4 linked regions of the Homo sapiens genome follow. The protein of the gene in region 1 purifies or fractionates together with the protein of each later gene. This does not show direct contact. Each region holds a gene or a part of one and is shown on either strand. Other genes may lie near its edges. The genes, in order: AUH, ALKBH5, DNAJC11 and MEF2D.

Region 1 (7,724 bases):
TTCTCACAAAATTTCATTTCAAAAATGTTCTGGTAAAAACAATGCATGTGCACTTTGTTACTTTGAATTAGAAAAGTAAAAGAACAAAAATAAACAGATGACGGTGATTTCACATTTACATCCAACGCAGCAGCCCAATCAGACTTCTTTAGAATTTTGTGATTGGCAAATATTAAAATTTTAACTACATAAACATTTTGAAATAGCAGAATTGTTTTGACTTGTGTGTGTGTGTATGTGTGTGTGGGTGTGTGTATGTAAGGCAGAGAGACAGACACACACACACACACACACACACAGAGAGAAGAGAGAGGGAGAGGGAGAGAGAGAGAAGGTAAACTAAAAGTGATTAAACAGTTTTTAGAATATGTAAGGAGGCAGCACACATTCAGTCCAATCTCACATAATCCATGTAGCCAATGCTTCACAAGAAGCTTTGACTAACAAAATTATTTTTCTTAGTATTCTAAGAGAAGTACAGGCAAGCCATGAACCCAGAAGTGGTGTTCTAATCTACAAGAAAGAATACACAACAGTGATTCCCAACCTGAAGGGTATGACTGTGATCACACATTTACATCCAATGTAGCCGGCCAACCAGAAAGACTTTTCCAGAATGTCACGATCAACAATATATTAAAATTTGGGGTATAGCACACCATGTGAAAACACATTATGTATGGGAAACACTGTCTGTATCTGTGACAACTATGACATATTTTTATCTGTATTTACATATTACTGTGGTTAATAGAAACATCCATTTTAATACATTACTGTAACAATGACATTTTGACATTACACACCTTCTCAATGTAGGGCCACTAAAATGTCTAAGTGTATAAAATTTTAAGAACTTTAAAGAGACACCTCATATTCCTTCTAGGTTCTAGATTAGAAACCACAGTCTAAGAGAAAACTCTGTCCTAACTGTCAAGAGAAGTAGTTTCAGCTAAGCCACCACCTTTAACCAGGTCTTTCACTTCACAGGGATTCTATAAAATTAAAGGGTCTGAATTATTCTATAGGAACTCTTTTAGTCTAAAATTTATCTTCTCAAATGTTGTAATGGGTCGGGCACAGTGGCTCGCGCCTGTAATCCCAGCACTTTGGGAGGCCGAGGCAGGTGGATCACTTGAGGTCAGGAGTTCAAAACCAGCCTGGCCAACATGGTGAAACCCCGTCTCTACTCAAAATACAAAAATTAGCTGGGCATTGCAGCAGGTGCCTGTAATCCCAGCTACTCGGGAGGCTGAGGCAGGAGAATCACCTGAACCTGAAAGTCAGAGGTTGCAGTAAGCAGAGATCATACCACTGCACTCCAACCTGGGTGACAGAACATGATTTCATCTCAAAAAAAAAAAACAAAAAGAAAGTTGTAACAACAATTTAGGAACTCAGTTAATATCCCAATTTTAGTTTCCAAAAAAAGAAAAATACACTAATATACTTTGTATTTTTCAAAATTATTTACTTTGCATATATTTGCTTAATATAATTTGTTAATATAACGAAGTTATTTCAGAAAGTTTGAAGACAGAAAAAATATCACCTTTAATCCATGATCTTTTTTTTTTCATTTTTTCAAACAGGGTCTCGCTCTGTCACCCAGGCTGAAATGCAGTGGCACAATCACGGCTCGCAGCTTTGATCTTCCAAGCTCATGCGACTCTCCCACCTAAGCCTCCTGAGTAGCTAGGACTACAGGCACGCACCACCATGCCTGGCTAATTTTAGTATATTTTTGGAGAGACAGGGTTTTGCCATGTTGCCCAGGCTGGTCTTGAACTCCTAGGCTCAAGCCAACTGCCTACCTCGGCCTCCCAAAGTGCTGGGACTACAGGTGTGAGCCACCTGGCCCATGAACTTATTGGCACAGACATAGTTTACACAGCTACAGTAATAATGGCCATAACATTTTATATACAACTCTCTCTATGCTTGTAACAGGTTATTTTCCACACTCCATGTATATCACTTTATAAGTATCGTATTTATATGTCTTTATATGTATGACTTTAAATATCTACTTAACATTCTAATGAGCGCATCGGTATATAATAAGTCACTTAAAGAGAACATCCTGGTAGAGTCCTTAGAAAATTTCATCCTTGTATAAACATCATTGAGTATATATACACAAACCTAGATGGTATAGGCCAGGGGTCCCCAACCCGAGTTGATGAATGGTACTGGTCTGTGGCCTGTTAGGAACCGGTGACACAGCAGGAGGTGAGCACAGGCAAGGGAGCATTACTGCTTGAGCTCTGCCTCCTGTCAGATCAGCAGCCGCATTAGATTCTCATAGGAGCACAAACCCTACCGTGAACTACGCATGCGAGGGATCTAGGTTGCACGCTCCTTATGAGAATCAGGCCAAGGTGGCCTGATGATCTGAGATGGAACAGTTTCACCCTGAAACCATCCCCTACATAAATAGGATATATGGTATAACATATTTCTCTTAGGCTACAAACCTGTACAGTGACTGTATTGAATGCTGTAGGTAACTGTAACACAATGCTAAGTATTTATATGTACCTAAACAGAAAACGTACAGTAAAAATACAGTATTATAATCTTATGAGGCTGGGCACAGTGGCTCACCCATGTAATCTCAGCACTTTGGGAGGCCTAGGCAGGTGGATCACCTGAGGTCAGGAGTTCAAGACCAGCCTGGGCAACATGGTAAAAACCCCATCTCTACTAAAATTACAAAATTTAGCTGGGCATGGTGGCACACACCTGTATCCCAGCTACTCAGGAGACTGAGGCACGAGAATCGCTTGAACACTGGAGGCGGAAGTTGCAGTGAGACAAGATCACACCATTGCACTCCTGCATGGGTGACAGGGAGACCCCGTCTCAAAAAAATAAAAACAAATAATCTTATGGGACCAGCATTGTATAATGCAGGCTACTGTTAACCAAAATGTTGTTATGGAGCACATGACTGTATTTGTGTATATATATACATATATATAAAATAAAGTAAAATACTAGGACAAAAATAATAATTATTTATATTAGGGGATGAATAAAGTAGAGGAAGTAGGGTTAGAGAGAGTTCTCTCTGTATACATTTTCATACATTTTGACCTACCATGCTACTTTTTTAAACTAAAAATTGATTAAAAAACTTAAAATGTAAGTGAAGTACTTAATAATGCTAAATAATAGATTTCTGAGAAGTCAGAAATCACTTGGCCCAACCTCCAATGCAATGTAGGAATCTCTTTAATGTTTATCTGTTTTCCTAGCATTTTAGAAAAAAGATGTAGCCAAATTTACTATCAGTAAATAGGAGAGTGGTATGAGACAATTCAGAGAAGCTGCTTATTATATCCCAACCATTCCTGAAAAAAATCAGTGAATTAAAGCACAGTTTAAAGGCTGATTAATTCCAGCAAATAAATGCTGAGTCCCTGTTGTTTGCTGTGTTCTGAGAATGTAAAAGATGATTCTCAAAGAATAAGAGGAGTTCCTATGCTCAAGAAATTTGAGGCAAGACCATTTGCTAAGCTTTAAATATTTAGAAATGAGCAAGGTATCACTGGAATACAGTATTAATATATACAGAGAAACCTTTGTGGGAGAAGAAAAAGAAGAGGGAAAATGATGACTTTCAAGGGATGGAGAAGAGGCTAAAAGGATAATCAATAAACGGTACACTGTGTTTTTGAGGTTTCTTTTTTTTTTGAGCCGGAGTCTCACACTGTCACCCGGGCTGGAATGAGGTGGCGTCATCTCGGCTCACTGCAACCTCTGCCTCCCAGGTTCAAGCAATTATCCTGCCTCGGCCTCCTGAGTAGCTGGGATTACAGGCACCTACTACCACGCCCAGAAAATTTTTTGTATTTTTAGTAGAGACAGGGTTTCACTATGTTGGCCAGGCTGGTCTCGAATTCTTGACCTTGTGATCCACCCACCTCGACTTCCAAAGTGCTGGAATTACAGGCATGAGCCACCGCGCCCAGCAGAGGTTTCTTTTAATATTACTACTTTGGAGTACAAATTAAAGCTTTAATTATGTGAAAGACCACATTCCTCAACAATAACTGATAAATGTGGCCTGATTAAGATGTTTATACTAATATAGGCTGTAAGTTTAAATATTCTTTAAATAATGTAAAGAGATTTTATTTACCTATAATTTTATTTCATATGTACATGTTAAAAGACAGACCTCTTTGGGAGGCCGAGGTGAGCGGATCACGAGGTCAGGAGATCGAGACCATCCTGGCTAATACAGTGAAACCCTGTCTCTACTAAAAATATAAAAATTAGCCGGGCTTGGTGGCGGGCGCCTGTAGTTCCAGCTACTCGGGAGGCTGAGGCAGGAGAATGGGGTGAACCCAGGAGCCGAGATCGTGCCACTGCACTCCAGCCTGGGTGACAGAGCAAGACTCCGTCTCAAAAAAAAAAAAAAAAAAAAAAAAAAGACAGACCTACTGGTCAGCTTATAAATGTAAATACATGTAAAAAAGAGGCCATGTGTGGCCTGTAATTCCAGCCCTTTGGGATGCCGAGGCAGGTGGATCACCTGAGGTCAGGAATTCAAGACCAGCCTGGCCAACATGTTGAAACCCCGTCTCTAGCAAAAATACAAAAATTTAGCCAGGCGTGGTGGCGGGCATCTGTAATCCCAGCTACACGGGAGGGTGAGGCAGGAGAATCACTTGAACCCAGGAGGCAGAGGCTGCAGTGAGCCAAGATCGTGGCACTGCACTCCAGCCTGGGCAACAAGCGTGAAAGTCCGTCTCAAAAAAAAAAACAAGAAAGGAAAACCTTTCGGAGAAATCTGAAAGAACAGTTCCATCATATACACTGAATTACTAAAAGAGAATGATATGCCCCAATTTTTCTATAATTAAGACACTGACTTTTGTTGACAAAATACAGTCACAAATCTTGAGTTAAAAGATTATCCTGATTGTACGAAAGTTTAAAAGCACATAAAGCAAAGTAAATAGATTAAATTAACTTGTTAAAAAGTACTCAAGGCTAACATGTTATTCTAATAAACAGCATGTGGTATATTATTTGAGGACATTTTGCATGTCCTCAAAAAGGCAATCTGTAACAGACATCCACAAACTGTGCTAAAGCATTAAAGCTTTTTTCAAAGTATATTCCTAATGCAGAAATCTAGAACAAATGGGCTGCAAAAGAATATGTAAAATAAAAAGAATTCCACCAGTAACTATAGTGCAATAATTATAAAACCTACTGCCAACAGAAAAACAATGCCGGGATGACCACTAACACTTATTTTTAAAATGTTAATCTGTCTTCACAACATTGATATCACTCCTCAAAAATTCATATAATTGGGCCTTCTTTAAAAACCCTAAAGCTACTCTGTATCTTCCCAATAAGCCATCCAATGACCTTTAGAGAACCTCTCAACCATCAGTCATGTGTTATACTCCTTTACCTCAAGATCATATTCACCTGGTGAATATGATCTAGACATAAGAATCCTAATTCTCTTGATATAAGTCTTTCACATTGTTTAAAAAAACAAAGAACTCAAAATATACATAAAACCCTTATAAGCACTCCTACTAAGCAGACAGTATTACTCACATTTGACAAATGTGAAAACAGAAATCTGTACTGCATAACACCATAACCCTAGCAGCTGGGAGTAATAAACCTACACTCTTTGGTTACTCAACTGGAATTAAAACTAATTCTTTTCGGTATCCTACATTTTAAGAAATGTATTAAGGAGGCAATAAAACCTTATCAAAAGCCAAAATACACTGCATATTTCTAAATATCACACTATTCTGCAATATTTTAAGGCAGAAGCCACAGAGATTGAAGCTTTAAAAAATTGAGAATCCTTAAGAATGAAACTAGGGGCCAGGCACAGTGGCTCACCCCTGTAATCCCAGCACTTTGGAAGGCCAAAGATGGTGGGTCACTTGAGGTCAGCAGTTCGAGACCAGCCTGGCCAACATGGTGAAATCCTGTCTCTACTCAAAATACAAAAATTAGCTAGGCGAGGTGGCAGGCGCCTGTAATCCCAGCTACTCGGGGGGCTGAGGCGGGAGAATCACTTGAACTGGGGAGACGAGGGTTGCAGTAAGCGAAGATCACGCCACTGCAGCCTGGGTGACAGAGCAAGACTCTATCTCAAAAAAAAAAAAAGAATGAAACTAAAGAATATTGGCCACAATTAAGACACAACAAACAACATTGTACTACATGTACTACAGGTACTACAAACAAGTATTTTAATGGCTCAAAGATTTTTTTTCAACTTCCAAAACAATCTAAATGTTGCAAAAGCTTCTTTCTAATGCTGACAGACTAAGCATGTTTTTTTCTTGTGAATCAGTAAAACACAGACAAAGAGGAGTTGTTGGTAATGGGGTTCAAACCAAAGAACATTCTAATGGAAAACAGATTACTATTGAGGAAAAATCAGACTACAGTTTAATTTCATAATACAACATATTTACATACCAGCACAGAATATCCCTGGGACTTCACTCCTGATTATTATGGTCCGTACTTTCTTATCAGATTTCAAAGCATCCACAGCTTTTGATAGCTAAACAGAAATAGGAAGCATAGGAGGAAAAAGAGAAAAAAAAAACAAAACATTTTTACATTGATGACAATAATATATCTTAATATTAGAAGCAAACAGTTTAATCTTTACACTCACCATTTTTATAAGATTTTTACTGAGTGAATTTTTGCCATAAGCTCTGTTTATTCCAAGCACCACAATTCCTAGTTAAAGGGGAAAAAAAGTACAAGCACTTGAGTGAGCAAGGCATTCAGAGAACAGACTCTACATCACACATCTAGCTAGCTTCGAACTTAACAAATCAAAGAAATTCATGACATCACGTTCCCTTCAATCGATCTCTTCTTAAGCACCAAGATAATTTGCAACATTTTGGTAAATTTTACATCACTAACTCAAACTAGAGGGAAGACTAGACTTATTAGTGAAAATTTTAAGTTAAAGGATACTATTTAAAATGTGGTTTCATCATCTTCAAGTAGATACCAAAGTAACCGCTAATAAACCTTGTCACATGCAGGTATTATAGCATCTGCTTTTTCTAGGACCAGTTGTTAATATCTCCATTTTTTTGTTGTTCATACTACACAGTTTTCAGTAATTCTATCCCAAGCTTCTCTCCTGATTTCTGTCTGATATACTTAACCTGAGGGCACTTCCATTTAGATGTCCAAGAAGTACTTCCAACTCAACCTATACAAAACAAAGTTCATTATCTCTCCCACAAACCCAGCTGTCACTCCTAACTGCCCCACTTTTTAATCAAAGACCATCACCTAAACCCAGCCTCCCATTCCTTCCAGTTACCAATTTTCTAAAAACAGTACTATGCATAGAATGCATCCCCTACTTAAAATCCTTTCATTATTTATTTCAAAATATCCAACTTCAAAGATCCTAATTTGATATTCAAAGTTCTACACAACCTCTACTAACCTTCTTGTTCTTGGAGTAGACAAATTTTCACAGTGTATCAGAAATACCTTCCACTGAGTCAGGGTGGGTATGTTTCTTATTTGCAACTGAGCTAAACTGAAGACAACAAAATGTACACATGCCTTCGCTGTGCAAGAAACTGTGCAGACCCATTCTTTAAAGTATAAAGATGAACTTCTGCTCACAAGAGTAAATTTGCAAGAATTCCAAATGCTCTCAGTACAGAGAAAAGCATAAAGGA
Region 2 (7,724 bases), on another chromosome or scaffold:
CAAGGCCTGGGCTCCGTGGCAGGAACCTGACATGGCTTATTGTTTGTTCTAGAGCCCTTTGGGGGATGGGGTCAGGGAGCATGCGGGCAGTCAAGCTTTGACAAACATCTGGATTTGCTCCAGAACTGCATTAAGAAAAGTGGTTCCTTGTTGGAGATGGGAAGTCAGGGCCCTTGGTTATGCATATAGCCAAGTCAAACAGATTGATAACACTTGTCAATGGCAGGGAAGGTTGCCTGTAGCCAGCACTGCAGATTCAGGACTTAGAAACGTGCCTCTGGGGCCGAGCATGGTGGCTCACACTTGTAATCCCAGCACTTTGGGAGGCCGAGGTGGGTGGATCACGTGTGATCAGGAGATCGAGACCAGCCTGGCCAACATGGGGAAACAGTCTTCACTAAACATACAAAAATTAGCCTGTAGTCCCAGTTACTTGGGGGTCTGAGGCAGGAGAATTGCTTGAACCTGGGACGTGGAGGTTACAGTGAGCCAAGATCATGCCACTGCACTCCAGCCTGGGCAACAGAGTGAGACTCTGTCTTTAAAAAAAAAAAAAAGTGCCTTTGAGACCTTTGACAGCTCTTTGGGAAAGTATTGTGTGTCTATATGGGACAGTCTTGCAGTCTAGACCCCCATTCCCCCAGTGTGGAATGATAAAAGCATGGGATGAGAACTAGAGTTCCTAGCTCTGGAAATGGGGCCCAGGCGGCCCCCACTACTGGCAGATCCCTGCAGGGGGAGCCCAGACCATGTCTCTTTGGCAGATGCTGAATCCAGGGCTCTGGCTTGCCCCAGGATAGTCCAGGGCCCTCTGACTTTTGTCAGAGTGCTTAGTAAAGATTGTAGGGTGTCAGGCACCCTGCATTATCTGACTTAATTCTCGCAATACCCCTGCAGGTAGGCCTCTCACCACCCCTTTCCAGGAGTGTCAACCAAGTAGTCATATAATGCTGTTTTTCTGCCTGGAAGGGAGGAGGCCCCGTTTTTAAAATCTTGTAATCTTAAAAACTTTAATCTTGTAATCTTTAAAACTGTCCCCATTTTTAAAATCTTGTAATATTAGTAGCAGCAAAAGAATAGCTAAATTATAAAGCATAACAAAATGAATACCCAAGAACCTACTGTTCTCCTTATTACAGATGAAGAAACTGTACAGGTTTTTAGGTTCAGCATGTGATTTAACAAAGGTCACAAAGCTAGTAGGAGACAAAGCTCACATTTGAACCCAGGTCTCTTCAACTCACTAACTCCTGTGTGGTACTTCTCACTGTGGGCTGATGGGTATTAATAGGTATTATGAGAGAAGGTTCTTTGGTAAGTGCTCAAAGTCAGTGGGTTCTTTTGCTGTAGTAATTCTCATGTGCTTTAAATATATTAATGCTTTTTGAAACTCTAATCAGTATTTTACAAATTGATTTCACTGTAGACATTCGTCCACTGTCTTTTTCTTTTTTTTTTTTTTTTTTTTTTTGAGACGGAGTCTCACTCTGTCACCCAGGCTGGAGTGCAGTGGCACTATCTCGGCTCACGGCAACCTCCACCTCCCAGGTTCAGCGATTCTCCTGCCTCAGCCTCTGCGATAGCTGGAATTACAGGCACCTGCCATCATGCCTGGCTTATTTTTGTATTTTTGTAGAGACGGGGTTTCACCATGTCGGCCAGACTGGTTACGAACTCCTAACCTCAGGCAACATGCCCACCTTGGCCTCCCAAAGTGCTGGGTGGGATTACAGGCGTGAGCCACCGTGCCTAGCCTGTCTACTGTCTCTTATGGGACTGGTGTTCATGGAGAAAATTTTGAAAAATTCTTGTCTAGGAGCAGCTTGAGGGAGAAGGTGGATCTATAAAATAAAGGTTTGGGCCGGGCGCGGTGGCTCACACCTGTAATCCCAGCACTTTGGGAGGCCGAGGCTGGCGGATCACGAGGTCAGGAGTTCAAGACCATCCTGACCAACATAGTGAAACCCCATCTCTACTGAAAATAACAAAAATTAGACAGGCGTGGTGGGGTGCGCCTGTAGTCCCAGCTACTTGGGAGGCTGAGGCAGGAGAATCGCTTGAACCCGGTAGGCAGAGGTTGCAGTGAGCCGAGATTGTGCCACTGCACTCCAACCTGGGTGACAGAGTGAGACTGTCTCAAAAAAAAAAAAAATTAAATAAAATAAAGGTTTGTTCTATCCCCAGCATGAGCTCAAATCAGATTTCCAAATCAGAGGTGCTTCCTTAAGGCTGAGCCTGAAGCAGTCTGGCTTTTTATCTCTTGTTGGCTCTTGCATCCAGTTATTAGAGCTGAGGTTTGGCCAGCCTGGCCATCTTGAGGGGTCCTTCCCAGGCCTGCAGTGTTTTTAATAGTTAAGTTTGTGTCTGTACAACTAGCCTTTGAGAAGGGAGCTGATCAGCAGCCATGAGAGAAGGGTTTGTGGTACAGGGCCAGGTAGGGAAACTAAGCCATACTTGTCCTACTAGGCTTGTGGCTGAGTTTCTGGGTGTGTAGAACTGCTGCAGCTCAGTAGAGTAACTTGGAGTGGGAGTATCTTGTGGCTGCCATGCTTCCAGTGATAGCATGTGAGGGGTATAGGAAGCTCAGAGCTTGCTTCCAGAGTTTCAAATTGGAATGACGCTAGCTGAGAAGAGGACAGTCATCTACCCACATTAGTTGGTCTCTGAGCGGTTTTAAAAGTCATGTAACTTGTTGAAAATAAACAGATATCTGAGTATGATGGAAATCCTTTTTTTTTGGGCGGGGGGCAGGGGGTGGGGGTCAGTGGTGGGGACAGAGTCTCGCTCTGTTGCCCAGGTGCAGTGGGCGTGATCTTGGCTCACTGCAACTTCTGCCTCCTAGGTTCAAGCGATTCTCCTGCCTCAGCCTCCCAAGTAGCTGGGATTACAGGCGCCCACCACCATGCCTGGCTAATTTTTGTATTTTTAGTAGAGATGGGGTTTCGCCATGTTGGCCAGGCTGGTCTCGAACTCCTGATTTCAGGTGATCCGCCCACCTCGGCCTCCCAAAGTGCTAGGATTACAGGCATGAGCCATCACGCCCAGCCGGAAATTCTTAAAATATTCAAACACAACTGTCTTCAAAATTTTGGATCCCCCCAAATGGAGACTTCATGTAGATATTCTATTTTGGAATGAGGCAGTCCTAGCTCTCCCTGGTGACTCAGTGCTATCAGTGGCTGCCTTGGCTTTCTCTACCTGCTAAATGGAGGGAGAATGAGGAGGAGCTACAGTGTACTCTCTGGAGTACCCTTTTAAAAAAGGGTTCCTGGCCTGTTCAGGGAGAGTCTTGCTTCCAGCCTCTGCCTTAAGTGGCCAAGGGGTCTCCTTTGTGTCATACCAGGTTTTTCCTTGAGTATTACAGTCTCTTGGCAAAAGCATCCTGGAACTTAATATGATATTCCCTTCCATGTAGATCCTTGAAACTCTCAAGTAATGGGTAGAGAGCAGCCGTAAGACCTAGGCCATGTTCCTGTCCTGTTATATCCCCCAGGAACTTTGGTTGTCTGTCTACTCTTCATGGTCACATGTTCTGTGTTTCTTTTCAGTGGATATGCTGCTGATGAAATCACTCACTGCATACGGCCTCAGGACATCAAGGAGCGCCGAGCAGTCATCATCCTCAGGAAGTAAGTGCCTTGATGTCTGACCTTCTGCCTCACCTGCAGGCCTGTCTGGAGATGTAGCTCTGGGTCCACTTAGAACTCAGCTCCTATGTATCAGTGGCATGGCAGAGTGGAGAGCAGAACTGTTAAGTTCTCTTTTTATTTGAATCCTGTGAGGATAAAGTTGTTTTGTTGTTTTATCAGAAAATTAAGTACTCTATTTAGGGAGTTTAGGACTGAGCAAAAGCATATACGCCCAATATTTGTGGGTATAATCTTGAGACAAGATTTGGGCAACATTCTTCCAAACCTCACCCCACCCCTTAGCCTCTATTCCTCACCTCCTTCGTTCTTATTTGTTACACGTACTCTTGGTGATTATTTTTAGACTGTGCCTTTAGCAGCCTGCTTTAAAAATGCCTGGGTTTTCACTGCTGGAAGGAACAGGGAGTGAAGAGAGGAGACAAGGGTGGGAGGTTAGGATGTAGTATTCGGCAGAATCATGGCTTGTGGCTCTTCTCTGGGGAGGGAATCAGGGATGTGCTACTTAACATCAACAAACCTGGCTTCACCAGCATTTATTTCTTTCACGGGGTGAGTGGAAGAAGCCATAGCCTCACAGACATTGGATCAAGACAAGCCTTGCCCCACTGTCCACCCATCTTGCTCAGGCTGGAATGCAGTGGTGCCATCATAGCTCACTGCATCCTCAAAGTCCTGGACTCAAGCTCTCTTCCTGCTTCAGCCTCCCCAGTAGCTGGGAATAGAGGCAAGTGCCACCATACCTGGTTCACGCCTACCTTTTGAATAGAGTCCCAGAGAAGATAGGTGATTGCCCAGAGTCATAGAAGTCAGTGAGCAGAGCAAAACAAGCACGTAAACTTAGGCTTGACCCATAAAACTTGCTGTCTGTCGTCTTCTTCCTTCCTTCCTTTTATTAAACTTTATTTTTTAGAATAGTTTTAGATTTACAGACAATTGTGATAGTACAGAGTTCTCATGTACTCTGCATCCCATTTCTCCTATTTGTTAATTTTTTATTGGTATGACTAAAGTCCATACTTTATTTAGATTTCCTTAGGTTTTTCCTAATGTCCTTTTTCTGTCCCAAGATCATCCTACGTTACATTTAGTTGACATATCAACTCAGACTCCTCTTAGACTCCTCTTGGCTGTAACAGTTTCTCAGACTTTGCCTTATTCTTTTTTTTTTTTTTTTGAGACAGGGTCTCACTCTGTCGCCTAGGCTGGAATAGGCGGGAATGCAGTGGCACCATCTCGGCTCACTGCAACCTCTGCGTCCCAGGTTCAAGTGATTTCGTGTCTCAGCCTCCTGAGTAGCTGGGACTATAGGCGTGTGCCACAACACCCAGCTAACTTTATTTTTTCGTACAGATGGGGTTTCCCCCATGTTGGCCAAGCTGGTCTCTAACTTCCAACCTCAAGTGGTTCACCTGCCTTGGCCTCCCAAAGTGCTGGGATTACAGGTGTGAGCCACCATGCCCAGCCTGCCTTATTCTTGATGATATTGACTGGTTAGGTATTGTATAGAAAATCTCTCAATTAGAATTTGTCTGATGTTTTTATGGTAAAGTGTATGCCATTTTTACTACATAACCAAGAATATATACTATCAATGTAACTTAACACTATTGATATTGATCATCTGGCCAATGCACTGTCAGGTTTTCCACTGTAAAATTACTGTTTTTCCTTGTCCATACTGTACCCTTAGGAAGGAAGTCACCATGCATGCCCACAGTTAAAGAGTGTGGGAGTTAGCACCATCTCCTTGAGGGGGAGCATGCAGGTGAATTACTTAGAATTCTTCTGCAGGGGGGATTGGTCTACTCTCCTTCATTTATTCAATCATTTATTTATATAAGTATATTTTTTATGTAAGTATGGACTCCTAGGAATTTATTTTATGCTCAAATTCTTCCAGCTTTGGTCATTGGGAATTTTTTCTGGTGCATCAACTTTAGTCAGTAAACAATAACTTTGGCATCCTGGTCCTTTGGGCCCATAACTCCAGAATATTGTAGTGGTGAAGTCTCTTTGGTATGGCTTTGCCACTTTGCCAAGTCAAAACTTTTAGTCTGTTTTAACTATAGTAGATGGGTATGATCCATATCTGTGGGACAGTCCTATGGTACAGGCAGAGCAGTGAACACGTGGGAGCTCCAGAAACTTGGGTCAACTTGGTGGGGTTGGCAGCCTCTCTTTTCTAGCCTAAGACTGTTCCCAGAATTTGTCAGAGGAAGGGAAGAGTTTTTATCTGCCTTGTACTTTATTTTTCTGTGATAACCAGCATAGGCAAGAACTCGGAAACAATGGAGTCCAGAGTGTAGCACTCTTCCAGCCTCTCCTCCAGTCATTTCTTCTCAGGCTGTACCTGGTACCTCCAACTGCAGCCAGGGATGGGTGGCCTGCCCAGGCCAGGAACCTGGAGAGGAACTTCTAATGTTACATAGAACCAGAGCAGTAACTTCCCAAGAGTTCCTCTCATCTTCCCATAATAGCTTATTTTGGGGAAATCTTAGTTGGATGTGCAGGTGGTAGTGGCCATAGCTGGAGTGTCAGTCTTCCAGCTGCTACTCTTTTATTGAATGGTGACTCCCATACCTGGCCGCCCAGTCCAACTGAGTCAGATGCTCCTCAGCACAGCTAGGAGTCTGCACCGTTAATCAGCTCCCTGGGAAGCTTTTCAGCCAGCTAGGTCCCTGCCAGTGGCCTGACCTTGGGAATGGCTGTTACTGGGTGACTGAAGCTCTTCTACCTTCTGACTTCAGTGGGCCCAGGAACCATTCACAGACTGGGCTGGAGTGCAGAAGCACAGAGCTGTGGTGTAAGGGGACTGGAGAAGAGTGGGAGGATGTCCCAGCTTCCCCAGGTAGCTGAGCTGGGGAAGTGCACAGCTGTGGGGAACTCTAAAGTATCTGCAGCTCCTGTTATGGTTTATGGATTTGTGCCTGGGCTCTTGTGGCAATGTGGCCTCCATTGGGCATACCTTCTCATCTAACATGTTCATCCTCTGATTCATATCCCAACTCCCCAAATAAACCTACATGATAACCAACTCCTCAGATAACCTAGTCATTCTTCATCGTTCAGATTGACCATTTTGACATGCAGAAAGCATCATATAAAAAGCCCTTTAGCTTTTTAGCATCACCTAAAGCCCTTTCAGCACACATGCAGACACATACACACACCCCTGTTTGGACTGTCACAGCTCATACGCTTGCCATTGTGAATTTTCAAATCTGCATTCTGTAGGAGTAAGGAGATCCCTGTTCATCTGGGGCCTAGCATGAGGTGCAGCCCAGAGGAGGCATCAACTAGTGTGGAGAACAATTCAGGCCGGTGAGGAGCAGCTCCAGAGTAGCTACATGGGTTTGTCTTGGGAAAGGACGGGTTGTGACAAGTTTAAAAAGGGGAGCATCTTGGCCCAGGCATTGCCCGGAGATAAGTATGATGTGGCCTTGGAAGATACCTGGCTGGTTTGATGTCTTCTGGTGAGGTTGTGTTACAGTGGGTAGAATCTGGGCATTGAGCCTGGCCCTGATTATGGTAGAGGAGTTAGAGCCGGTCCTGCCTTCTCATAAGTTCAGATAAAGATTGCACAGGCTGCTGGTGGAGACCCTGGGAGCTCTGTCACCAGCTCAGGTCAGTCAGAGCTGGAAAGGTCTTTCTAAGGGCCTCACGGAAGGAAATGGGTGGGCAGCTGCCAAGTGCTTTCTGGTTGGACAGAACGCAGCTTCTGTGAACATGGGTGGTGCCAAGTCTTCATGCACATGTGCCCTTGTTTCTTACGGGGAGGCTGGAAGTAACCTTTTAAAAAAGTCTCCCCAGAGTGGAATCCTCAGACTGTCCCTTGGTGTTATAATGTTTGGGGTCACAACTTAGCCAGTAAATGGCTGAGTGACACCTGGAACCTGGGTCTTGTGGTTCGTTGGTGGTTTGCACAGTGGAGTACCCCAAGTCCTGCCCTTTCCCCCAGTGTGTCGTTGGGATGGATGCTTTGAGTTAGGAAACTGGAGCTCAGATATAGAAGGGCTTTCTTGCCTCTGCTGTGCAAGTAGAGAGTTGTGCTGATTGGGGAGAATGTTATGAGTA
Region 3 (7,724 bases), on another chromosome or scaffold:
CTGCCTGTCAGATTGGTGGTGGCATTAGCTTCTCATAGGAGCATGAACCCTATTGGGAACTGCACATGCAAGGGATCTAGGTTAGGTCCTCTTTATGAGAATTTGACTAATGCCTGATGATCCCAGGTGGAACAGTTTCATTCCACTCCCACTAGTCTGTGGAAAAATTATCTTCCATGAAACCAGTCCGTGGTGCTAAAAGGTTGGAGACCCCATTGTTGCCGCCGTTGGAGAGAGTGAAGCAGGCAGCTGGAAAGGACCCCCCGTTCTCCTATGACAAGACACATGATCTTTAATGATTCTCCTTCTAGATTTCCTGTTTACAGAGCAGGGCCATCATCTGTCGTGCCTGCCTCACACTGAGAGGAGGGAGTACTTTATCACTCACTGGGCACACCAAAGCCAGACAGGTTTTCTGGTTTAGTGTTAGATGCATCATCTGGTTCCTAAAATCTCACTCCTCTGAGATTTCCAGGATGATTTTCCAAAATTTATTTGGAGAAAGGATTCCTTAACTATAAATCAGAGTTAAATTTACCTGATCCATTAATTAGGAAATTTAATTGACACATTTCAAACCTAATTTATTCCCAAGACAAATGGCTACAGTTCTAACTTTATCATTGTCTTTGAAAGAATTTCATTTTTGCAGTGTTTGTAACCTGTTTGAAGACCTCTGGTCCCAATTGTTTTAACCTTAAGGAGCCATCCTCCTTTTCAACTTTTAAACACTTTTGGAAAAACACAGTTAAGTAAAAAATGAAGTTGTTAATAAATAGTTTTTTTCTTGCAGTCCATATATGGAGGTCAGTGTTCTGAGATCTTCATCCTTCCAGAACAGCCATGAAACTAGAAGTACAAAAGTATCACCTACCAGTAAAAAGTTTACCCCAAGTCCCTGCATTTTCATTCCTTCTCTGGTACAGGGTAGATCATTATTTTCACAATTGTGTGTTGTTGGGGTTTCCTTAGCTGCAGGTTACAGCCACAGAGTGAGGCCCAACAGTTGAGTTTGAGCTGCAGATGGAAAGGAAGGGCTAGAAGAGTAGAGGAAGGTCCCCTGGTCACTGGCAAGATTGTCCTAGGGTCAAAGTCACCCACAAAGAAGGAGACAGCAGACCCTCCAATCAGGACCACTGACTCAGCCATCTGCAGAAATTGACATGTAAAAGGCTCAACTGTGCCAATTTGAGCGACTCAAATACCTAAAGCAGTGAGGTGGTGTGTGTTTACACATTTATTGCTTTCTTATCAAACTTCATGATGGGCAGTTAATTTTGTCTTAATAAAAAATAAAGATGGCTCTGAAAAGGTCAGTTCCTTCATTTTCCATCTACTACATTATGTTAAAGTTTGATATTTATAATGACTCCAGTTAAATGTGTGCCTCAGGCACATAGAATTAAGCCTCGGTTGTCCAAAAACAACTTATTCAGATGTCTGCATTCCATAGGGTGTTCTGTAAGCCAAGAGGCTGAGAAGCAAGAATTTCAGCCCATGCTGCCTGCCTCTTGTGTGACCTTCAACGAGTCATTTAACCTCAGCCTCTACTTACCTGCAGAATGGAGGCACCAGTACTTCTTAGTTAACAATGGGATAGAGGGAGGCCACTATGTAGGGCTTTGCAGCTGGAGTCCAGTATTCAAATCCCATTTTACTCTTCTGGAAGTTCTATGCTTCAACGCTAGTAATTTAACCTTTCTGTTTCTCAATTTCTTTTTTTTTTTTTGAGATGGAGTCTCACACTGTCACCCTGGCTGGAGTGCAATGGCGCAATCTCAGCTCACTGCAACCTCCACCTCCTAGGTTCATGCAATTCTCCTGCCTCAGCCTCCCAAGTAGCTGGGATTACAGGCACACACCAGTACACCCGGCTAATTTTTTTTTTTTTTTTTTTTTTTTTTTTTTTAGTAGAGATAGGGTTTCACTATGTTGGCCAGACTGGTCTCAAACTCCTGACGTCGTGATCCATCCGCCTCGGCCTCCCAAAGTGCTGGGATTACAGGCATGAGCCACTGCACCTGGCCATCAGTTTCTTTAATGTTAGAATGTAGGTAACAGGTAATAATGGCTTAAGCACTTACTGTAGGCCAGGATGACCTGTGTGGTATGTGCGTTGCTAGGTGCTGAGAATGTATATAAATTGCCTGTCATAAGTAGGTATTTAGTTAATATATATTGTTATTTCTTGGATTTTGATAAGTTTGAAGTTTTGCTTACTTTAAAAAAAGACATAAGGATTGGGGGGTGGCTCACACCTGTAATTCCAGCACCTTAGGAGGCTAAGGCAGGAGGATAACTTAAGTCCAGGAGTTTGAGACCAGCCTGGGTTGGCATAACGTAGCAAGACTCCATCTTTAATTAAAAAAAAAAATTTTTTTTTTTTTTTTTTTGAGAGAGTCTCGCTCTGTCACCCAGGCTGGAGCGCAGTGGCACAATCTCGGCTCATTGCAAGCTCTGCCATCTGGGTTCACGCCATTCTCCTGCCTCAGCCTCCCGAGTAGCCGGGACTACAGGCACCTGCCACCACGCCCAGCTGATTTTTTTTTTTTTTTTTTTTTTGATTCGGAGTCTCGCTTTGTTGCCCAGGCTGGAGTGCAGTGGTGCGATCTCGGCTTATTGCAAGCTCCGCCTCCCGGGTTCACGCCATTCTCCTGCCTCAGCCTCCTGAGTAGCTGGGGCTACAGGCCCCCACCACCATGCCTGGATAATTTTTTTTTTTTTTTTGTATTTTTAGTAGAGACGGGGTTTCACCGTGTTAGCCAGGATGGTCTCGATCTCCTGACCTTGTGATCCGCCCGCCTCAGCCTCCCAAAGTGCTGCGATTATAGGTGTGAGCCACCGCGCCCAGCCAAAAAAAATTTTTTTTAATTAGCTGGGCATGGTGGCATGAGCTGTAACCTGTAGTCCAGCCTAAGGTGGAGGTGCAGCCGAAAAGCAGGTCAGTTGTTTACCGCATGCAGAGTCCAGTTAACAAGAGTGAGGCGCATACAAAGCCAGTGAATTTACTCTGAAGTCAGCTTGGGGAAGGGGCACGATGTCCTGCTGTACCGCTTCACTTTTAGAGCAGAAAGCAGGCACTTTTATAAGGTATAGGAGGAAATGAGCAAGGGCAGGGGTCCCCCTGCTATCTGGGTACTTTATCTAACTGGCAATTGAGTTGGCATCTTCCTGGGCAGAAAGAAGTAAAAGTGGCCATGGGGACATGATTTGGTCTGCAAATCCACTGTCAAGAGATCCGTCTTGGAGCACGTAGTTAGCTGAACTTGCCCCATAGAAGATGTCTGGTGAGGGGGAGGGGAAAGGTTATATTTGCATTTCTAAAGGGCTAAGTAGGAAGCAGGGTACCGGGGAAAGGGGGAGAGGAGAAAATAATTAAACTATCTCTTAGAAAAAATGGGGCTGGGCATGGTAGCTCATGCCTGTGAATCCCAGCACTTTGGGAGGCTGAGGCCAGCGGATCACTTGAGGTCAGGAGTTCAAGACCCACCTGGCCAGCATGGTGAAACCCCATCTCTACTAAAAATACAAAACTTAGCCAGACTTGATGGCGGGCGCCTGTAATCCCAGCTACTCATAAGGCTGAAGCAGGAGAATCTCTGCTGGGAGGTGGAGGTTGCCGTGAGCAGAGATCGCACCACTGTGCTCCAGCCTGGGCAACAGAGCGAGACTCTGTCTCCAAAAAAAAAAAAAAAAAAAAAATGGGGGTACTTGGTTACAGGAGGATTGCTTGAACCTAGAAGTTTGGGGCTGCAGTGAGCTGCAGTCACACCACCACACTCTAGGCTGGGCGACAGAGCGAGACTTTGTCTATAAAAAGCGAGACTCCGTCTATAAAAATAATAATAAATAAAAGGCTGGGCGTGGTGGCTCATGCCTGTAATCCCAGCACTTTGGGAGGCTGAGGCGGGTGAATCACGAGGTCAGGAGTTCGAGATCAGCCTGGCCAACATGGTGAAACCCTGTCTCTACTAAAAATACAAAAACTAGCTGGGTGTGGTGGTGGGCGTCTGTAATCCCAGCTACTCGGGAGGCTGAGGCAAGAGAATTGGTTGAACCCGGGAGATGGAGTTTGCAGTGAAGCAAGATCGCACCACCACTGCACTCCAGCCTGAGCGACAGAGCAAGAATCCATCTAAACGATAATATAACAATAAATAAAAATGTGAAAGACATACATGTACATAAATAAATTTAAAAATGTGAAAGACATACTTGGTATGCTTCATCCTGGCTAAGGATGAACTTTGCTATCCACTTGTAATATTACTAAAAATCATAGTGCTAGAATGTATGCTAAGCATTAGTTTATGAAATTCCTGAGGTTGGGTGTGGTGGCTCACGCCTTACAGTCCCAACGCTTTGGGAGGCGGAGGCGGGCAGATCACCTGAGGTCAGGAGTTTGAGACCAGCCTTATTAACATGGCGAAACCCTGTCTGTACTAAAAATACGAAAAAAAAAAATTAGCCGGGTGTGGTGATGCTCGCCTGTAATCCCAGCTACTTGGGAGGTTGAGACAGGAGAATTGCTCAAACCCAGGAGGCGGAGGTTGCAGTGAGCCAAGATTGTGCCACTGGACTCCAGCCTGGGCAACAGAGCAAGACTCTGTCAAAGAAAAAAAAAGAGGCTGGGCGCAGTGGCTCATGCCTGTAATCCCAGCACTTTGGGAGGCTGAGGCGGGCAGATCACCTGAAGTCGGGAGTTTGAGACCAGCGTGACCAACATGGAGAAACCCCATCTCTACTAAAAATACAAAAATTAGCCAGGCGTGGTGGCAAATGCCTGTAATCTCAGCTACATGGGAGGCTGAGGCAGGAGATTCACTTGAACCCGGGAGGCAGAGGCTGCAGTGAGCCAAGATCGTGCCATTGCACTCCATCTTGGGCAACAAGAGCAAAACTCCATCTCAAAAAAAAAAAAAAAAAATTCCTGAAGCATTTTTTACTTTCTGTTCAAAACACTGAGTTTGTTCTTTTTAAAAGACAGTGATCTCTCTGAACTTGTGCTTCCTGGAAAGTTGACATGGGGATAGGGAGCTTTCCTGGAAGTTGGGGCTAAGTATGGGAGTAGGGTGCAGGCTCAAGGATAACATTTTTTGGGTGTTTGGGGTAAAGATAGGATAGTTGTGAGCCAAGCAGAGAGGAGGCAGAGCTGGGGGCAGGGGTGGGCCCAAGAGGGTGCCCGGGAAGTGGAGTTTAGAGAAGCTGCCTGTGTGCAGGGAGGGGGCTGTTGAGGATGCCCCACCACTTCCAATGTCATCTCATAATGTGATTGGCAAACGTGAGGTTACATTTCACAATGTGTTTCTTTAATGATCTATAAGCCAGTTATTTTCTGCTTTGGGCATTTCAAACAATTGCTTCTTGAAATGTTAATGCTCTAATTTTGCATTATCTACCAAAACACCTCTTTTATTTTCTTTCTTAAAGAGAATTCAATGGAAAACTTTTGTATTTGCTGTGAATTTAGTAATAAAACAATGGAAAACGGGACATGAGAGCAACATGCTTTGCTTGGCTGTAGAATTTTATTGTCTGCTTTTTATTAACCTTTCATTTTAATTTTACTTACTTACACCTTTGTTTAAGAAAGGATGTAAGACAACAGATGAAAAAATAAAATAGCATATATTTTTTAAAGGAGTCACACATTTCTTAAAAAGAAGACAATTGAGAACATTGCTGCATTATTACCACTGTTACAGCATATGCCTGGTACAGATTGCAGTCCCTGGAAGGAGCTTGCAGCTTGGAGTGGAACCTCCTTCGAGATGAAAATCTGACAGCTGGATTCCTGTTTGGCTCATGGACTGTTGGAACCACTTCTGCATGTTTTGAGTGTGCAGCCTACCCTCCCTAGTTGACAGGAGCCAGAAAATTCTTCAGCAGTAAAATGCCAAGCCAATAGAGATCAACCACAAGAAGTCTGCATGAGTAGGCAGGGTATAACGGATGAACACGAATGACAGAAGGTATAAGGTCAGGCTTTTAGGGAGAAATAAGCCGATTTCTTACTGTGAAGATAGGATCTGAGCCATCAATTTTGGTGCAACTCTGGAGCTTGTTTCTAGAGACTGGGGCCTTTTGATTTTCTATTAGTCTCAAGGGCAACAAATATATATATGAACATGACCAGGAAGAGTAATGAAAACCAAGTTGTACAATGGTAGCAGAAGATTTCCTGAGCCCTTGCAATGACCTCTGATTGGGAGTCAGGATTTTTGCACCTTGGGCCCATTTGTTCTTGAATTCTGTGATTGTAGCCGAGATGTGTGCTGCAAGACCTGATTCCTTCTCTGCCCCGTAAACCTTACAGGTGATGTGCTTCCTGCTTTTTTTTTTTTTTTTCAGTCTTTGGGATTCTGTTGTTACTAATTGTGTAATCTTTTTTTCAAATTTATATTGCCATCTTGGAGGTATTGTGTTTTGTAAGTTTTTTCCTTAACTCTGTGTTAAGTAGAACTCACTTAAGTTTCAAAAATTGTTCCTATTTGTAGAAACTTTTTAGAATTGTTTTATCTGTTTCTTTGTTCAGCTTTTCTGACTCATTTGTGATTTGATTATTTCTCTGCTAAGCTCTTTCCAAAGTGAAACCTAAAATGGCTGTAGGAGCCAAACTTCCAAAATCAGTGTAGGTCAGCCTGACCTCTGTCCTCAACAAAGATGTGATAGAATTCAGGGTTTTTGTTTGTTTGCACCATTCTCCTGCCTCAGCCTCCCGAGTAGCTGGGACTACAGGCGCCCGCCACCACGCCCAGCTAATTTTTTGTATTTTTGGTAGAGACGGGGTTTCACTCTGTTAGCCAGGATGGTCTCGATCTCCTGACCTCGTGATCCGCCCACCTCAGCCTCCCAAAGTGCTGGGATTACAGGCGTGAGCCACCACGCCCAGGCAATTCAGGGGTTTTAAGTGAAGGACAACTGAAATCACCTAGCCCACCCCTTGCGTGTTTAAGCATCAAGGAGCATTCATTGGTGATGATTTGAATGTCCTGGGACAGTGGTGGAGCTTCAAAAGGGGTCATTGTGAAGATAGAGAGCACAGCCGCAGGAGTCAGATCCAAGTTTGAGTTTCTAGCAGGTTTTGTGGGGGGCAAATTACCTAACCTGTCTGAGCCCGTTCATCCAGAAAATCCAGACAGTTTTACTGTCGTAGAGCTTTTGTGGGAATGAAGTGGGAGTGCATGGAAATGCTTGACATAGCAGTGGATATGCGACTGTCAAATGAATGCCGTGTATTTCTATTAGTGTCATGAGCATAGCCATTAATAAGGAAGGCTTTTATTGGTTACTTATATAATTTGGATGAATCGTTGATCTGGTATATATATATATTGTAAACGCCTCTTCCTTCTATGTTGCCTTTCACTTTCATGAACTAAGTTTGGTTTGAGTTAGGCTACACATTATTAGTTTCTAACAATCTTTCGGGTTAGGGGTCCATAACCAAATAAACTCCTCCTCCATCTTCAATAAGTCACTTGATCTTTCCGATCCTCGGGATTTTTATCTGTAAAATGGGAGTCTGATACCAACCTCAAGGCGTTTTGAGTATTAAAAGTATTAAGTGAGGAAATAGTGGAATTATTTTGTTAGCTGTAAATCTGTGTAAATGCATTTGTGACACCATTGACAAGCCTTTAAAGCTCTGTGATGCGTCTCGGTCCTTCCTTTTCACTTTGCCAGTTGCACATTCCCTGTCCTCCTTACATAGCCCTTTCTCC
Region 4 (3,500 bases), on another chromosome or scaffold:
AAGTGCTGGGATTACAGATGTGAGCCACCACGCCTGGCCTGGGTTCTGGATTTTTACATGTGGGGAGGAGGTGGGATTTTGTGGTTATTTGCACTGGTGGCTGGTTCAACTCTGGGAGGCTTGGGGAAGGGGGAGAAGTTTATGAGTCTTTTGGTCCAGACTAAACTCATCAAAGGAACTGGCCTGACATAACCATTCACATGTGAGAGAACCTGAGGAAGGCAGAGGTCTCTAGCTGGAAATAGCCCAGGTTCCCCAGCCACATGAATGCTCTGAAACAAGGGGACAAGGCGTTTCCTTACTGGCAAGTCCTTCTTGACACAGTGGCTTAGCATACAGGCAAGGATGGCTGAGAGTATCACAGACTGTTCCTGCGCAGGTGTGAGTGGGTGGGTGACACAGGCCAGGATGGCCCTAGGGACCCAGGACAGCCCGCGCACTGGGTGTCCTATCTGAATTCTTCTATCCAGAGACCTTTCTCATGTCCTTAAGTGGCTCTTTACCTTCAGATCCCCTCTCTAACCTTCTTCCCTCTTCTTCCTTCCCCAATCATCATTCCACCACCATGCCAAAACTAGAGGAGAGACGCTGTTCTTCCCCCTCCGCCTTGCCCTGGAGCCCCCATTTGGCTTTCCCAGGAAGCTAGCAAACTGACCCTGACTGTGCTTTCTCTCTGGCCTCCTCAGCCTCCTTGTCTCTTTTCTCTTATTCCTTCATTCTCTTCCAGGAAGCTTTTCTGAACTGACCACGTCCCCCTCACCACTCCCCATACCTGCAGCCTAGAGATTGGTCAGCCTGAATGATCTGCAGACCTGCCTCTGTCCTGTCTCGTCCTCAGGCTGCAGGCTTTCTGAGGACAGGGGCTCCCTCCTCCATTAAGTACTTTTTAAAAAATAAACAATGCTGGCCAGGCACAGTGGCTCATGCCTGTAATCCCAGCACTTTGGTGGATCACTTGAACTCAGGAGTTTGAGACCAGCCCAGGCAACATGGCAAAAACCTATCTCTACTAAAGATACAAAAATTAGCTGGGCATGGTGGCGCATGCCTGTAATCCCAGCTACTCAGGAGGCTGAGGCATGAGAATCACCTGAACCCAGGAAGAAGAGGTTGCAGTGAGCCAAGGTCATAACACTGCACTCCAACCTAGGTGACAAGAGTGAGACTACCTCAAAAAAACAAAAACAACAAAAACCAATGCCTAGTTAAATTTGAATTTCAGATGAAACAATACATAATTTGTTAGCATGAGTATGTCTTTGGTGCTGGGCACAGTCGGTAACACAGCACTTTGGGAGACTGAGGCAGGAGGACTGCTTGAGACCAGGAATTTGAGACTAGCCTGGGCAACAGAGAGACCTTGTCTGTACAAAAAAAATGTAAAAAGAGCCAGGCATGAAGGCATGTGCCTGTAGTCCCAGCTACTCAGGAGGCTGAGGCAGGAGGATCACTTGAGCCCAGGAGTTCAAGGCTGTAGTGAGCTAGGATGGCACCACTGTACTCCAGTCTGGGTGACAGAGTGAAACCCTGTTCCAAAAAAGAAAAAAAAAACAAACCCAAAAATAAAATATGTCTTTGGGACATACATTAGCAGAAGAATGTCTTTGGGACATATCTGTACTAAAAAACTACTTGTTTTATCTGAAATTCAAATTTAAAAGCATTCTGTGCTTTTATTTGCTAAACCTGTTAACCATAAGTAGGTGGGGGTTCCCCCAAATCAGTAGCCCTCCTCAGATGTGGCCTGTCCAGGGGATAACTAGCATTTCTGTCTGGTCACTTGCCTGCCCCAAGCCCAAGTGCACACATGCACATGTCACATGAACACTCACCTGTGTTGTAGGCAGTGGGCATGGAAGAGAAGGGGAGGCCCTGGCTGAGTAAACTCGGCGTTGCCACAGAAACCACTGGGGTGGTGAGCGAATGAGTAGACTGGGAGACCCCAAGGCGCTGGGCATTGTTCTGTAGGAGAAAACTGTCCGTCAGGAGGTGGCTGACAGGTGGGCAGCTTTATGTTGGCCCTCCATCCCAAGGCCAAGGTGGGGTTCCTGAATCCCAAAGCCAAGGCGGGGTGCCTTAGCACGGAGGCCCCCACAGATATACAAACACACGTTGGTGCATTCACAGAGACACTCAGATCCATGGAGGGAAACATGCACACACAGATTCACTGACACCAACACACGTGCAAAGATGAAGGCACGTGTACTGGCCCTGTGGCCCCAGCACCAACACTCGCCCAGCCTCCCAGTGCAGAGTGAGGGAAGGGAGACATCGTCCATCCCCTGTCTCTCTGGAGCCCACTCTCCATCCATCACACTGCAGCACACGCCCCGGCAGAGGCGTGCTGGCATCTGCGAGGGGAATGTGGGGCCTGGCGTGGCGTGTGCCTGCGCGTATGCACACACGTGTGTGGGGCTGTCAGCTCCATCTGCCGCTGAGTCACTTGTTTATTCCAACTCCATGCTGGGGCCGAAACTGCCGCCGTGTTGGCCGCCAAAGCCTGCCTGCCTTTTCCAGCCTCTCTGGCCTCCCGTCAGGGAGTTAGGGAGGGAGGAGCCCCCGCCCCACTCCTGGCTGGGGGTGAGTATGTAAGTGTGTGAGACAGAGGAGGAAAATGAGCAGCTGTGCATGCCTCTGAGTGCCCGTGTCATGGACTTAAGTTCAGGAGGGAGCACAGGGAGACAGGGGAGGTGGGAAGCTGCCACCAAGAAGGACAAGTCCAGCCTGGGCCTGGGCCTTGGCTTCCCCTGAAACACCAGCTTCTCCTTCCAGCTGACCTCCCTCCTAAGAAGGATCCTGTCCTGGATCCCAAGAATGCAGTGTGGGCCTGAGTGGAGTCAGAGGACTAGTGGGATCCAGCCCCCTAGTCCAGGGCCTAGTCCAGGCATCAGGGTGGGACCTCTGAGCCCTGGGCTGGCCCACTCCCCCTCGCACACGTACATACAGAGAAAGGTGTGTCTGAATGAACATAATACCACATGCAGACATTCATGTACACACAGGCACACACACACACGTCTGACCTCTCACCCCCACCCCATTCACCTTTGAATCCCACTTGGCACCTAAGCACAGCTCCTGGCAACTAAGCAAAGAAACAGCAACAGTTCACGCACAGGCGAGAGGCCAAGGACGCACACGTACTTCATGCTGGGGGACCGCAGAGCAATACCCAGAATTCAAAGCCACAGCAAAGAGCTCACAGCCTCACTTACCAGATCTAAATGGTCCTCAGTCTGAGAGCAGAAATAAAACCAAGGGGATGTTCAGTCTCTGGCCGCTGCCCTCCCCCACACCTCTGTCCCCACAGCTGTTCCAGTCACCTCTCTGCATAAGAGTAGGGTGGCTCTACCCAGCCTACAAAGGCAGAGCTCTCCACCGTCCTGACTCATTTCCAGAGATGCTCCATCCCAATCTCCACCAGTGAGGAAATGCTCACCATCTAATCCCCATCCCTCCTGCTATAGTGGCAAATCCTTTCTATGATCCTCCCCACC

Evidence for each region.
Region 2: the proteins of AUH (region 1) and ALKBH5 fractionate together in Homo sapiens (co-fractionation; one large-scale study listed by BioGRID). This does not show direct contact.
Region 3: the proteins of AUH (region 1) and DNAJC11 fractionate together in Homo sapiens (co-fractionation; one large-scale study listed by BioGRID). This does not show direct contact.
Region 4: the proteins of AUH (region 1) and MEF2D fractionate together in Homo sapiens (co-fractionation; one large-scale study listed by BioGRID). This does not show direct contact.

Annotation. Positions count from the first base shown.
Region 1 is NC_000009.12:91,349,406-91,357,129, forward strand, and holds part of AUH (methylglutaconyl-CoA hydratase, mitochondrial isoform 1 precursor), read right to left. Parts: intron 6,751-7,724; coding exon 6,683-6,750; intron 6,567-6,682; exon of another isoform or gene 6,566-6,566; coding exon 6,478-6,565; intron 1-6,477. UniProt on the Homo sapiens protein: Catalyzes the fifth step in the leucine degradation pathway, the reversible hydration of 3-methylglutaconyl-CoA (3-MG-CoA) to 3-hydroxy-3-methylglutaryl-CoA (HMG-CoA). Can catalyze the reverse reaction but at a much lower rate in vitro.
Region 2 is NC_000017.11:18,191,407-18,199,130, forward strand, and holds part of ALKBH5 (RNA demethylase ALKBH5), read left to right. Parts: intron 1-3,548; coding exon 3,549-3,629; intron 3,630-7,724.
Region 3 is NC_000001.11:6,689,813-6,697,536, reverse strand, and holds part of DNAJC11 (dnaJ homolog subfamily C member 11), read left to right. Parts: intron 1-7,724.
Region 4 is NC_000001.11:156,473,276-156,476,775, forward strand, and holds part of MEF2D (myocyte-specific enhancer factor 2D), read right to left. Parts: intron 3,240-3,500; coding exon 3,219-3,239; intron 1,963-3,218; coding exon 1,833-1,962; intron 1-1,832. UniProt on the Homo sapiens protein: Transcriptional activator which binds specifically to the MEF2 element, 5'-YTA[AT](4)TAR-3', found in numerous muscle-specific, growth factor- and stress-induced genes.